2 separate regions of the Homo sapiens genome follow, and region 2 is linked to region 1. The links come from fine-mapping of genetic effects on gene expression. A gene starts in region 1. The other region holds a variant in brackets. All regions are shown on one strand. Distances are from middle to middle.

Region 1 (5,366 bases):
AAGGACATGAACTCATCTTTTTTTATGGGCCGCGTAGTATTCCATGGTGTATATGTGCCATATTTTCTTAATCCAGTCTATCAGTGTTGGACATTTGGGTTGGTTCCAAGTCTTTGCTATTGTGAATAGTGCTGCAATAAACATACGTGTGCATGTGTCTGTATAGCAGCATGATTTATAGTCCTTTGGGTATATACCCAGTAATGGGATGGCTGGGTCAAATGGTATTTCTAGTTCTAGATCCCTGAGGAATCGCCACACTGACTTCCACAATGGTGGAACTAGTTTACACTCCCACCATCCTTTTGGTTTCTTTTCTTTCCTCTGCAGCTACCAAGATGAATGAACTAATGGAGAAATAGAAAGTCTTCAGTGATGGCCTACGCCAAAGCACAGGATGGGGCGGGCAGGAAGCCCTCTCCCAAGATCGAGTTGGCCGAGGATGGATGATTGTGGCAGCAGAAGCCGTTGCAGCCCCACGTTGTGCTCTAGGCAGGGACCTTTGGCCCCTTTGGGGAGGGAGAGACAGACGGGCGGTTTGACTTGGACACAAAGAAAGCCTTGGTTTCTAAGCAGTTGCCTCCAGCCTGCTTTCTGCTTCCTCAGCTCTATGTCTCTCTCCTTCCCCTTGTCCTGAGCTGCTCAGGTGGCCCAGGTCTGGGCAGGCTGGCGGCGGCCCTCCTGTCATCTTGGCGGGCCTGGGCTGCGTCCTCTTCCTGTGGCTCCACTCCTCCCTGCTGCTGCCAGCCACTTGAAAGCAGAGAACCCACTGTCGCCTCCCCCGGCTGGCCTTAGGGTCCTGTGCGAGACGCACCCCTCAGCCGCCCTCCTTGAGTGCCCCTGGATCCCCCGCGGGGTACCAGTTTCCTGCTCCTCCCTGGCTGGGCGCTCAGCTCTGGGCTGGGGAATTCAGCCTGACTGGTTGTCCAGGAAGATGCTGTCTGGGCTTCCCAGGGTGACCCAGTATCTCCCTGAGCAGTGTGCCTGTCACAGCTGCCTCCCTCCCTGTGAGTACCGGAACAGGCGTGACTGGTAGGGCCTCTGCCTCCTTGGGGCCATTGTACCTGCTGCTGCCCGCCCCACCCTGCTCCCTCCTGGCACCATCTCCTTTGCTTCCCCAAGGTCCCTGTGGGCACACAAGGCAAGGAGGCCAGGAGGAGCCAGGTGCCAGACCCCCCTCCATCCCAGTCGCCTGAGGCATCCCCCAGCCACCACTGTGAGAGGTGGGAGGCCGGGCAGGCCTGTGGTCACCATGGTGCAGGTGCACCACCTGATTTATAGGCCAAGGGACTCCTCTTGGTCACCTCTCTGTGCCCCCAGCATGGGGCTGGCCCTGCAGTGCACCCACCATCAAGGGCTGTTGTCTCTTGCTCCAGAATGAGGTCTTCAGGGCGCCACTGCTCGCAGGACCGGGAAGGACCTGGTGCCCTTTGCCTGGAGCGGGATAGACAGGGCAGGTCCCTGAGCCTGGGGTCCGAGGGGCTGGGCTTCACTCCTCCTGTAGTCCCGGCGCTCCTGGCCCACCCCCTAACGTTGCTTATCTGTGGTGGAGGAAGCATTAGCTCAGCTGCGGCCTGCACAGCTCCCGGGCCAGGCCCACCTCCCTTCCTTCCCCAGCAGCCACTGTTAGGTGCACGGTAGACATGATGAAGCGACGTCCTTAAAGCAGATAGCATCTCCCGAGGCTGCCCCATCCCTAGGTTTTGGGGGAGCACCCCTTCCCCTTTGGAGGCTGAGCACGGCATGTGTGGGCACCTTGGTCACACTCCAGAGCTCGCTTCATCCCCACGAGCGGCACCTGATCTCCAGTGACGGGGAGACTGAGGCCTGGCAAAGAGGACCTGTTGCCTTTGTGTAACTGGCCCCAGCATGGGGGAGGCATTGGCCCCAGCATGGGGGAGGCATTGACCCCAGGCCTGCCAGGCCTGGCAGCCACAGCCTGGCTAGGTGGAGGTTACTGCCTTCCGCACCACTCTGGCTTCCTCCCCGTGCCTGTGAAGAGCTCGGGGCCTGCTTCCTAATTTGTAAACACGGGGCGTGTGTCTCAGTGGCTGTGAGCTAGCGAGGGGGTGGCGAGCGAGCCGGCTGCGCAGGTCCTGAGGCCCCAGGCCTCATTGTTGGCCAACAGGCAGCTGGGGGCGGGCTGCGGCCGCTGATTAAAGGCCGCCTAGAGCAGCCTGTGTGGCGACAGGTGCCCAGAAGCCCAGGAAGCCGGTCAGTGCCCGCCCCAGGTAAGCTGGTGTGGTGGGGTTGGCAAGGACAGTCTCCCCGGGAGCCTGGGGGCAAGCAGGCAGAGGCCAGCTCGGGACCAGCACCTGTGTGCCAGGGACAAGGGTGGGGAGGTCGAGCCCAGCGGGAGCTGGGTGCACTGCATGGGCTCTTTCGGGTGGCTGCTTGCCTGCTTCCCGGCAGCTGGTTCCAGGGCTGGAGACCCAGTGTGCTATGCCCCAGGTTCCCAGCCAAGGCATTCCGGTGAAGGGGCTGGACCCCGCCAAGGTGCGGTCCCTGAGCTGCCTCTGCCTCTCCCAATCCCTGCTGGGGACTGTGGCTGGAGGCAGGCAGTAGAGCGCTCTGAGGCCTGCCTTTTCTGTTCAGTAGGTGACAGGAGTGGGGCTGACGCTCCCAGAGCCAAAGGTCACAGGTGCTGTGGTCGGGGGTGGCAGGAAGTGAGCCCCAGAAGGGTCAGAGCTTTGGCTAGGGGGAGGATGGTACACAGCAGGGCCCGGGCGAACCCCTCTCTCCAGTCCTCAGGGTTTGTGCCTCTCGCTCGGACAGTTTGAGGACTTGCTATCCCCGTGGGAACATCACCATGTCCGAGGCACCCCGGGCCGAGACCTTTGTCTTCCTGGACCTGGAAGCCACTGGGCTCCCCAGTGTGGAGCCCGAGATTGCCGAGCTGTCCCTCTTTGCTGTCCACCGCTCCTCCCTGGAGAACCCGGAGCACGACGAGTCTGGTGCCCTAGTATTGCCCCGGGTCCTGGACAAGCTCACGCTGTGCATGTGCCCGGAGCGCCCCTTCACTGCCAAGGCCAGCGAGATCACCGGCCTGAGCAGTGAGGGCCTGGCGCGATGCCGGAAGGCTGGCTTTGATGGCGCCGTGGTGCGGACGCTGCAGGCCTTCCTGAGCCGCCAGGCAGGGCCCATCTGCCTTGTGGCCCACAATGGCTTTGATTATGATTTCCCCCTGCTGTGTGCCGAGCTGCGGCGCCTGGGTGCCCGCCTGCCCCGGGACACTGTCTGCCTGGACACGCTGCCGGCCCTGCGGGGCCTGGACCGCGCCCACAGCCACGGCACCCGGGCCCGGGGCCGCCAGGGTTACAGCCTCGGCAGCCTCTTCCACCGCTACTTCCGGGCAGAGCCAAGCGCAGCCCACTCAGCCGAGGGCGACGTGCACACCCTGCTCCTGATCTTCCTGCACCGCGCCGCAGAGCTGCTCGCCTGGGCCGATGAGCAGGCCCGTGGGTGGGCCCACATCGAGCCCATGTACTTGCCGCCTGATGACCCCAGCCTGGAGGCCTGAGCACCAGGGCCACCTCCTGTGCCATGGACAGTGCCAGCCTCCACCGTTCAGCTGGCCTCTACCACCCCCGGCTCCTCCTATCTGGGCAGCCTCAGGTCCGTGCACCTGCCAGGCCTTCCCTGGCTGCCTGACCAGCCATACGGCCCTGGATTCCTCTCCAGGCCCCGCTTCCAGGGCCGTGCTCTCCCGGCTGGCCTGGGTGCCCAGCAGAGTTTGCTGTTTCCCAATAAACATTGCCAACTACTCACCCTCCGACTAGCTGGCCAGATACTAGGGGCTGGACTCCCTCGACCCCCTGCTGAGCAGGGCCAGGCGGTGAGCCATGCCAGGGGCCAGCACAAGACCTCCAGGGCCGCCCCCCTATGGCCTCTCCTCGCGGTGAGGACCGTGGGTGGCTGGGTAGGGAGACGTCAAGCTCTTGGGTTGGTCTGAGGGCTGATGGGTTGTGGCTGTGGGCTGATTGCCGCCCATCTGCATTGTCACCCCAGAGGCCCAAAGAAGCCATGAGTAGGGCCTTAAGCCCACAGAGCCGGCCGCCTGCCTGGGCACAAAGCTCAGCTGCAGCGCTTGCCCGCCGTGGGACCTGGAGTCTCTGTCCCTGCTCTGTGAAGTGGTAACAGGGTGAAATGTTAAGAAACGGGGTGCTGGGGAAAAGGGAGGTGCCCCCACATGTGGGCATGCACATGTACATGTACATGCTAAGGGCCCTGACGGTGCACGGAGCAGAGGTGGGGTGGCTGGTGCTGTGAGGGTGACCCTGGAAGGGAGCCTATCCTGCAGCCCGTGTCCCCGTAGGGCCAGGAGGCCGCTCGGTGGGAGGGCAGCTTCTGGCCACCGCACTGTGCTTTGGGTTCCCTGCTAACCTGCCTCAGGGGCCCCACCCTGAGGCACTTCCAGTCTTGGGAGGCCTCATGGGTGGGGAGAGACCTGTCACCAACGCTGGGTCAGGTAAGAAGGGATGGGGTGGCCACGCCTGAGAGTGACTCACATGAGCAAAGCCTGAGCCTCCAGCCAGCTGGACAATCTGGGAAGCCCTAAGTAGGTCAGAATGACTGGAGCCACTGCAGCGTGCACGGTGGTAGGATGGTGAGGCCAGAGCACAGGCAGTGACCACCTCAGACCTTCCTTGTGGCCCGGGCCAGGCCTGACCCTGATGGCAGCGGGGAGCCGCGGAGGGTCATGAGCAGGAGAGGGGAAAAGTCTGGTGTAGGCTTCTGCCATATGCTGCTTGGGCTGCGTGCCGAGCTGTTCTCGAGTTGCTGTGAAGAAATACTTGAGGCTGGGTCATTTACAAAGACAGCGGGTTTATTTTGGCTCAGCAGTGCTGGCATCTGTTAACTGGTGGGGCCTCAGGAAGCTTCCACTTATGGCAGAAGGCAAAGGGGGAGCAAGAGAGAGGCGGGGAGGTGAACTCACAGCGAGAATTCAACTCCTTGCGGAGGTGAGGACGGCACCAAGCCATTCATGAGGGATCCAACCCCATGACCCAAACGCCTCCCACCAAGGCCCCACCTCCAACATTGGGGGTTACATCTCAAACTGAGATTTGGAGGGGACGAACGTCCAAACCACATCAGGCTGCTGCATGGAGAATGGGCTGGAGAGGACAGCGACGGCAAGGCGGGCAGAAGCAGAGCATGGAGGGCTTTGGTGGAGGGAGGGAGAGCTATGGGCCTGGCCAAGGACAGTGGCAGCAGGGGAGGGGAGGGGGCACGGTCTGGGGAAGCCCCACAGGACCTAGTTTGGGAATGTGGTTAGTAACCAGAAGATCTTGTCACAGCCAAGCTTCCCGAGGAGAGCATCACCTGGGAGAGTGTCACAAGCCCTGGGCTGGCCCTACAGAAGC
Region 2 (5,366 bases), 55 kb before region 1:
GGCCCTGGGCCACACTGCAAAGTGGGAGTCGGAGCCCAAGGCTTAGCTCAGCTTCCCCCTCATGTGGAGCTGGACTTCATGCTGACCCCTGGGGTCACCAGGAGGCCCCTGCTGGGGCAGCACCGAGCCTCCCTCATTCTTTTGAGCCTTGAGATCCCACAGTTGCAGCCCAGGGCCTGCCAGCCTCAGGCCGGCCCAGCAGAACCTAGGGGAACCGCCCGGAGGGTCTTGGCCCCCAAGTAGGGAGAAGGCTCAACACTCACCTACCTGGATGGTGTTTCCCTTCCTCCAGGGCAGGGCAGGGCCTCCGATGCCTGCTGCCGCTGTAGGACCCTCTCCCAGTGCCAGTGGACACCCGGGGGCAGAAGGAGGAGGAGGAGGAGGAGCAGTGGGAGAGAACAGGAAGGGCAGGGTGGAAGCAGGAGAGCAAGATGGAGTGGGGGAGGGAGGAGACTGCCCTGCCCCTCCTTGCCGATGCCCCTGCCAAAGCCGCTACCTCCCAGGGAGAGTGAGTCAGGGCTGGGACACCCCGCCAGAGCCCTGGCAAGCTCCAGGGTGGGCAGTCCACCTGGACAGGTAGGGTTGGGGTGGTCCGGCTGGGCCTACGGGAGGCTGTGGGGAGGGGCTGGGGAAGGCCGAGGGGACAGAGGACCATCTGACCATGGCCAGCTTGGAGCCCCCCAGGACCCACGCATTGGCCTGGAGGAGGACTCTACAGGGACTCCTGCCCCGGGGCAAGGGGTCTCCCCAGGAGCTGGGACTTCCCTGCAGGCCCTCCTGTTAGGGAATCGGGCCCTCCACCAGGGCAGGGGGCACAGGCACAGGGCAGGCCAGTCACGGCAAGACTGGCCATCGGGGTCTCAGGCGGGTTCCCGGGACCAGCTGTGGGGCAACGAGGGCTCTGGAGGCAGGCTGCCTGATACAGTAGGATGTCTGGGGGGTCTCCAAGAGACTGAGAAAGGGGCAAGGGGAAGAGGTTCCCTCAGAGCGGGGAGGGAGGCTGAGGGCTGGAAGGCCCATACACCCGGGCCCCGTGACAGAGGCAGAAGGACAAGGTTTGGCTGGTTTTCCATGGCTCATGGCTGTGCCCAAGCAGTGGGCAGGCTGGAGGGGCGGGGGCCGGGCAGGCTTCCCGGCACATCCCTCATTTCCCCTCAAAGAACTGGCACAAAACTGAGACCTCTCCCGAGGAAGGGGCAGGCTCCGTGTCTGAGCCCACAGGAGGCAGCAAGGGGCCCATGAAGTCAGAGGGAGCCAGGGGAGCCTGGGGGGAAGGATAGGATCCCCTGGAGCTGGCCTGATGAGTATCCCCATTTTATGGACACAAAAGCTAAGGCCGAGAGAGAGGCTCTGATTTCTCCCAAGTCACTCAGCCTGACTTGGAACTCAGCTTTGGCGCCTCCAGGCCCCGCCTGAGCTCTCAGCTGTGCTCCTCAGCCACAGGGCTCCAGCCATGTCTCTGGGCCTGTGAGAGCCTGAATGCCCAAGACTGGGGGTGGCAGTTTGGGAGGTCCTGGCAGTATAGGCTCAGCTGTCCTCCCAAAGCCTGGCCCCTGCCTTCTCCCCACCACCTCACACCAAGCCCCTCCCTCCTGCCAGAACATGCACACACACACACGTACACACATACACACACAAACACACACACAGATGCACACATACACGCTCACATACACACACGTGCACACGCACACACCTATACAAAACACATATGTACACACGTGCACACACACATGCACACACCTATACAAAACACATATGTACACACATCCACATGCATCCACATACATGCACACATCCACACATATACGTGCACACACCTATACACACATGTACACACATATACATGCACACACCTAGACACTCACACATGCATACCCATGTATACACATTCACATACACATATGATACACATATACACACATATATACACAGATGCACACACACTCATGCACACATCTATACACATACATGCACATGTACATCCACATGCGCACATGCATGCATGTATACACACATGCACACATGCACACATACACACATGCACACACATGCACACACACGCACACATACACATTTATACACACGTACACACACACACACATGCATACATGCACACATACATACATACATACCTGCACATATACACCTGTATACACGCATACACATATGTACACACATACATGCACACATCTATACACACATGCATACACACATTCACATATACATATGTATACATATACACATACATACACATATATCCACACATAGATAAGGCAGGCGGGGACCCCAGCCCAGGAAGCAGGAATACCCCATAGTCAGATCCTGTGAGACCCACAGCAAGTCCCTCCAGTCCTCAACTCTCCACCACCACAACTGAGGCCTCTGGGCCTCAGTTTCCCTTCATTGGCCTCTCTGGGTGTGTCTTCAGGGACTTCAGGGAGGGTTTCAAGCCCCACCAAAGTGTGCCCTGAGCTCCCTGGATACCATCTCTTTAGAGCAAAGGACAGGGGCGGCAATGGCATAAGCCCCAGGTTTGGCGACCGCAGGTGTGAGTGAGGGAGGAGGCTGGGCTTCCTGGAGCCTCCGCCACCACCCCAATAGGGCCCTCCTTGTCTGCCCCTCTGAAAGCTAGCGCAGTCCTCTGCACTGGATTGCTCGAGGTCACAGCCAAACAAGATGCGTTGGCAGCCTCTGAGAACATGGAGGGTCCGTGCCAGGCATTCAGGCCAGGCCAAGGGCGGCGGGAGCAGGGCTTGAGGTCTGGCGGGCCCTGGGAGCTCGCCTGCAGATGGTGTGGCTCACAGCTGCCAAGTGGCAGACGCCGGATGCTGTCTCCGCAGCCTCAGCCCTGGGCGTCTGCCCCCCTGAGCAACCCGACCTGAACTCTGACACATGTGCCACCTTCCACGCAGCCCTGCGGGGTCCCCGGGACTGTGTCCTTCCTCCCCTCCCCTCTGGCCTCCAAAGCCTTTTGGGCCCAGTTTCAACCAGCAGCCTGGTGCTTGTGCCCCCGCTGACACCCGGCCTGCCCCCTGCCACTCTCCCAGGCCCCAGTCCACCAGTCCCTCCCCGCCGATGGCTCCAGCCTGTACTTGGGCATCAACCAGAGAGGGGATGTGTACCCTCCCTGGCCTTGCCAAAGCCCGGCGTGTGCGTTCATCTGTGGGAGTGGCTGCCTGAGGGGCTGGGGGCTGGAGTGGGGAGGGGTGGACCTTGTGCCACATTCCAAGCCCCTGCCGTTGCCGGAGCATGCCCTTCAGGCAGCCACGC[T/C]TGGGCGTCTGCTCCCCTTGCAGCCACGTGTGGAGGGGCTGGGAAACCCCGGCTCATCTGCTGCTCAAATCCTTTCCAGAGGTTTTCTGGCAGGGTGGCGACAAGGGTGGAGTTCTCCCTTGATGCGCCCAGCCACCTCCCACCTCTCTGTGCCAGCCCTTTGCAGCCTGTGGCGCCCATGTCAAGGTCCAGCCTGTCCCCACAGTCGGCGGAGTGCGGGACTCAGCCCTTCCCACTGTGCGCTCCTGGTCCTCTGCACACGGACTACTGCTGCCCCCTCCCACTCTCCGAAGAGATCCGGGGCCTCCTGCTAGAGTCTCCAAGGAAAAGGGAGGATGCTGTCACCTCTCAGAGGCAGAGCAGGGGACTCATGTGATTTCTTTACTTAGCATCCTGCCGTCCCCCGTTGACTATAAGAAGGAAGCAATGCTCTTAGAACTTGATGAAGGGGTAAACTGAGGCTCAGGAAGTTGGCCCCAAACTCTTGCCCAAGGCCACACGGTGAGGAAACAGCAGAGCTGGGGCTGCACACACTGTCTGTCTGTCCGTCTGTGTCCTTGCCCCCATGTCTGGACCCACCCTCTCCCAATGCACACAGTGCCACAGGCCCCAAAGCTGACACGCTTCACACTCTCGGGGCTGTGCAGGGGGCTCCCCTGGAAGCATGGCCCTTCTGAGGACCATCAGTAGCTCCCTATGGCCCACAGATCCAGAAGCCCCTCCTCAGCCCCAACACAGCCAGCAGGGCAGCCCCCGCCCAGCCTCTCACCTCTGCCTCTGTCTGCAGGGAGTCTCCTGGAAAAGCCATCGTCTCCCCAGGCGAGCACTTCAGGGCCCCAGGGAAGGTGTTCCCGGCCTGCCCCCCAGAGCCTGGGGCCCTGCCTCCCTCCCTCCCTGGTACAGGCCCACCAAGGCCAGGAGGGGAGGGGAAGGTTTCCTGCAGCCCCTCCCTGCCGCAACCCGCTCTCTGCCGGGGGCTCAGGCTGGGCTGGGATTAGCCTCCTTCAGCCAGCCAGGGTGGCCCACAGCCTGCTTAGCTTCAGGCTCCTGGGACTGCTGGGCTCCCATGGGTGTGTGTCTCTTTGCATGAGGGCAGCCTCCAAGAACCATGGGATGGCAGTCAAGGCCAAGCAGGGACTCAGACTTCCAGAGGATAGAAGTCACACTGGCTTCCCAGACTTCCCCTGCCTCCAGGGACAGGGCTGCCTTCTAATCTTCTGGCCACCCAGGAGTCTGCCCGCCATGCTCCCCTTGGCCCATCTGAACACCTCAGGGACCAAACAGGACTGGGATGGCCAGCAGAGGCAAGTTCAAGAGGCCCACAGAGTCCGTTGGGCCCCTGGTCCTCCAGCTTATCTCAGGCCAGTGTTTAAGTGGAGCTCAGGCTTAAGATGCAGTGGACCAGGAGAGTTCCATGCAAGAAGGCTGGCTAGAGCCCCAGGCCCCTAAGCCTCAGAGATGAGCCTCATGGGAATGGGCAGCACCTTCACCAGGCCTGCCAGGGAGCCGGGACCTGACCCTGCCCCTTGGGCTGGCTGGGATCAGAGCTGCGCAGGTGGGAAGCTGGGAGTGGGAGGGTTCTGCAGTCCTCGGAAGAGCCAAGGCTGGTGGCCCCTCCATAGCCACCCCAGAGGCTGCTCTGACCTAGAGCCATGACGGGGCAGGGGAAGAAGGCAAACAGCGAAACAGCGAAGGGGGCAGCTGGGATGGTTCCCAGGAGTCTAGAGTCCCAGAAGGGGCTTCTGGCTGTGGGATTCAAGTGGTGGAGGGGATCTTCTGGCCTGGAAGGGGACCTGGGGAAGGAGGAATGAAGCACAGGCCCCACCCCTCCAGAGGAGGTGGCCCCAGGCCTTCCCCAGGGAACCCTGGGAAGCTGGTTCTTTCTGGAAGGCTGCAGAAGGGCCTGGCCATGGGTCCTGGAGGCCACTTAGGCTAGGCGGGCCTCAGGCCAGGAGGACTGAGCCATGCGCCCTCCCCACAGCGCAGCCCCTCTGCACACACCCCACAGCTGGTCCCTCTAAGACTTGCGGAAAGGGCTCTGAGTGGCCGAGCTGTGGCCCCTGATCTCCCAACCCAGCATCTGAGCAGAAGAG

Alleles and levels. Alleles are on the strand shown, and positions count from the first base shown. SD is a standard deviation of normalised expression in the study named.
For the expression in unexposed skin of the gene that starts at base 2,184 in region 1, C is the high allele of the variant in region 2 and T is the other (small effect, 0.18 SD a copy in GTEx).

The links. PIP is the estimated chance that this variant, and not a neighbour inherited with it, causes the effect.
Region 2: its variant is the best candidate, but not a certain one, in a credible set for the expression of TREX2 in unexposed skin (GTEx, PIP 0.63).

What each region holds. Positions count from the first base shown.
Region 1 is chrX:153,442,874-153,448,239 of GRCh38, reverse strand. TREX2 (three prime repair exonuclease 2) reads left to right here and starts at 2,184. Exons shown (of 2, transcript NM_080701.4): 1 at 2,184-2,231; 2 at 2,745-3,767. The coding sequence starts at 2,810. The coding sequence ends at 3,520. It overlaps HAUS7 (HAUS augmin like complex subunit 7), which reads left to right. Exons shown (of 10, transcript NM_001385482.1): 10 at 331-572. The coding sequence ends at 362.
Region 2 is chrX:153,497,468-153,502,833 of GRCh38, reverse strand. The region is part of intron 1 of BGN (biglycan); the gene reads right to left. Among named protein-coding and RNA genes, the nearest start is that of BGN, 5.2 kb to the right of the region's middle. The variant T/C (reference allele first, on the strand shown) is at 3,274.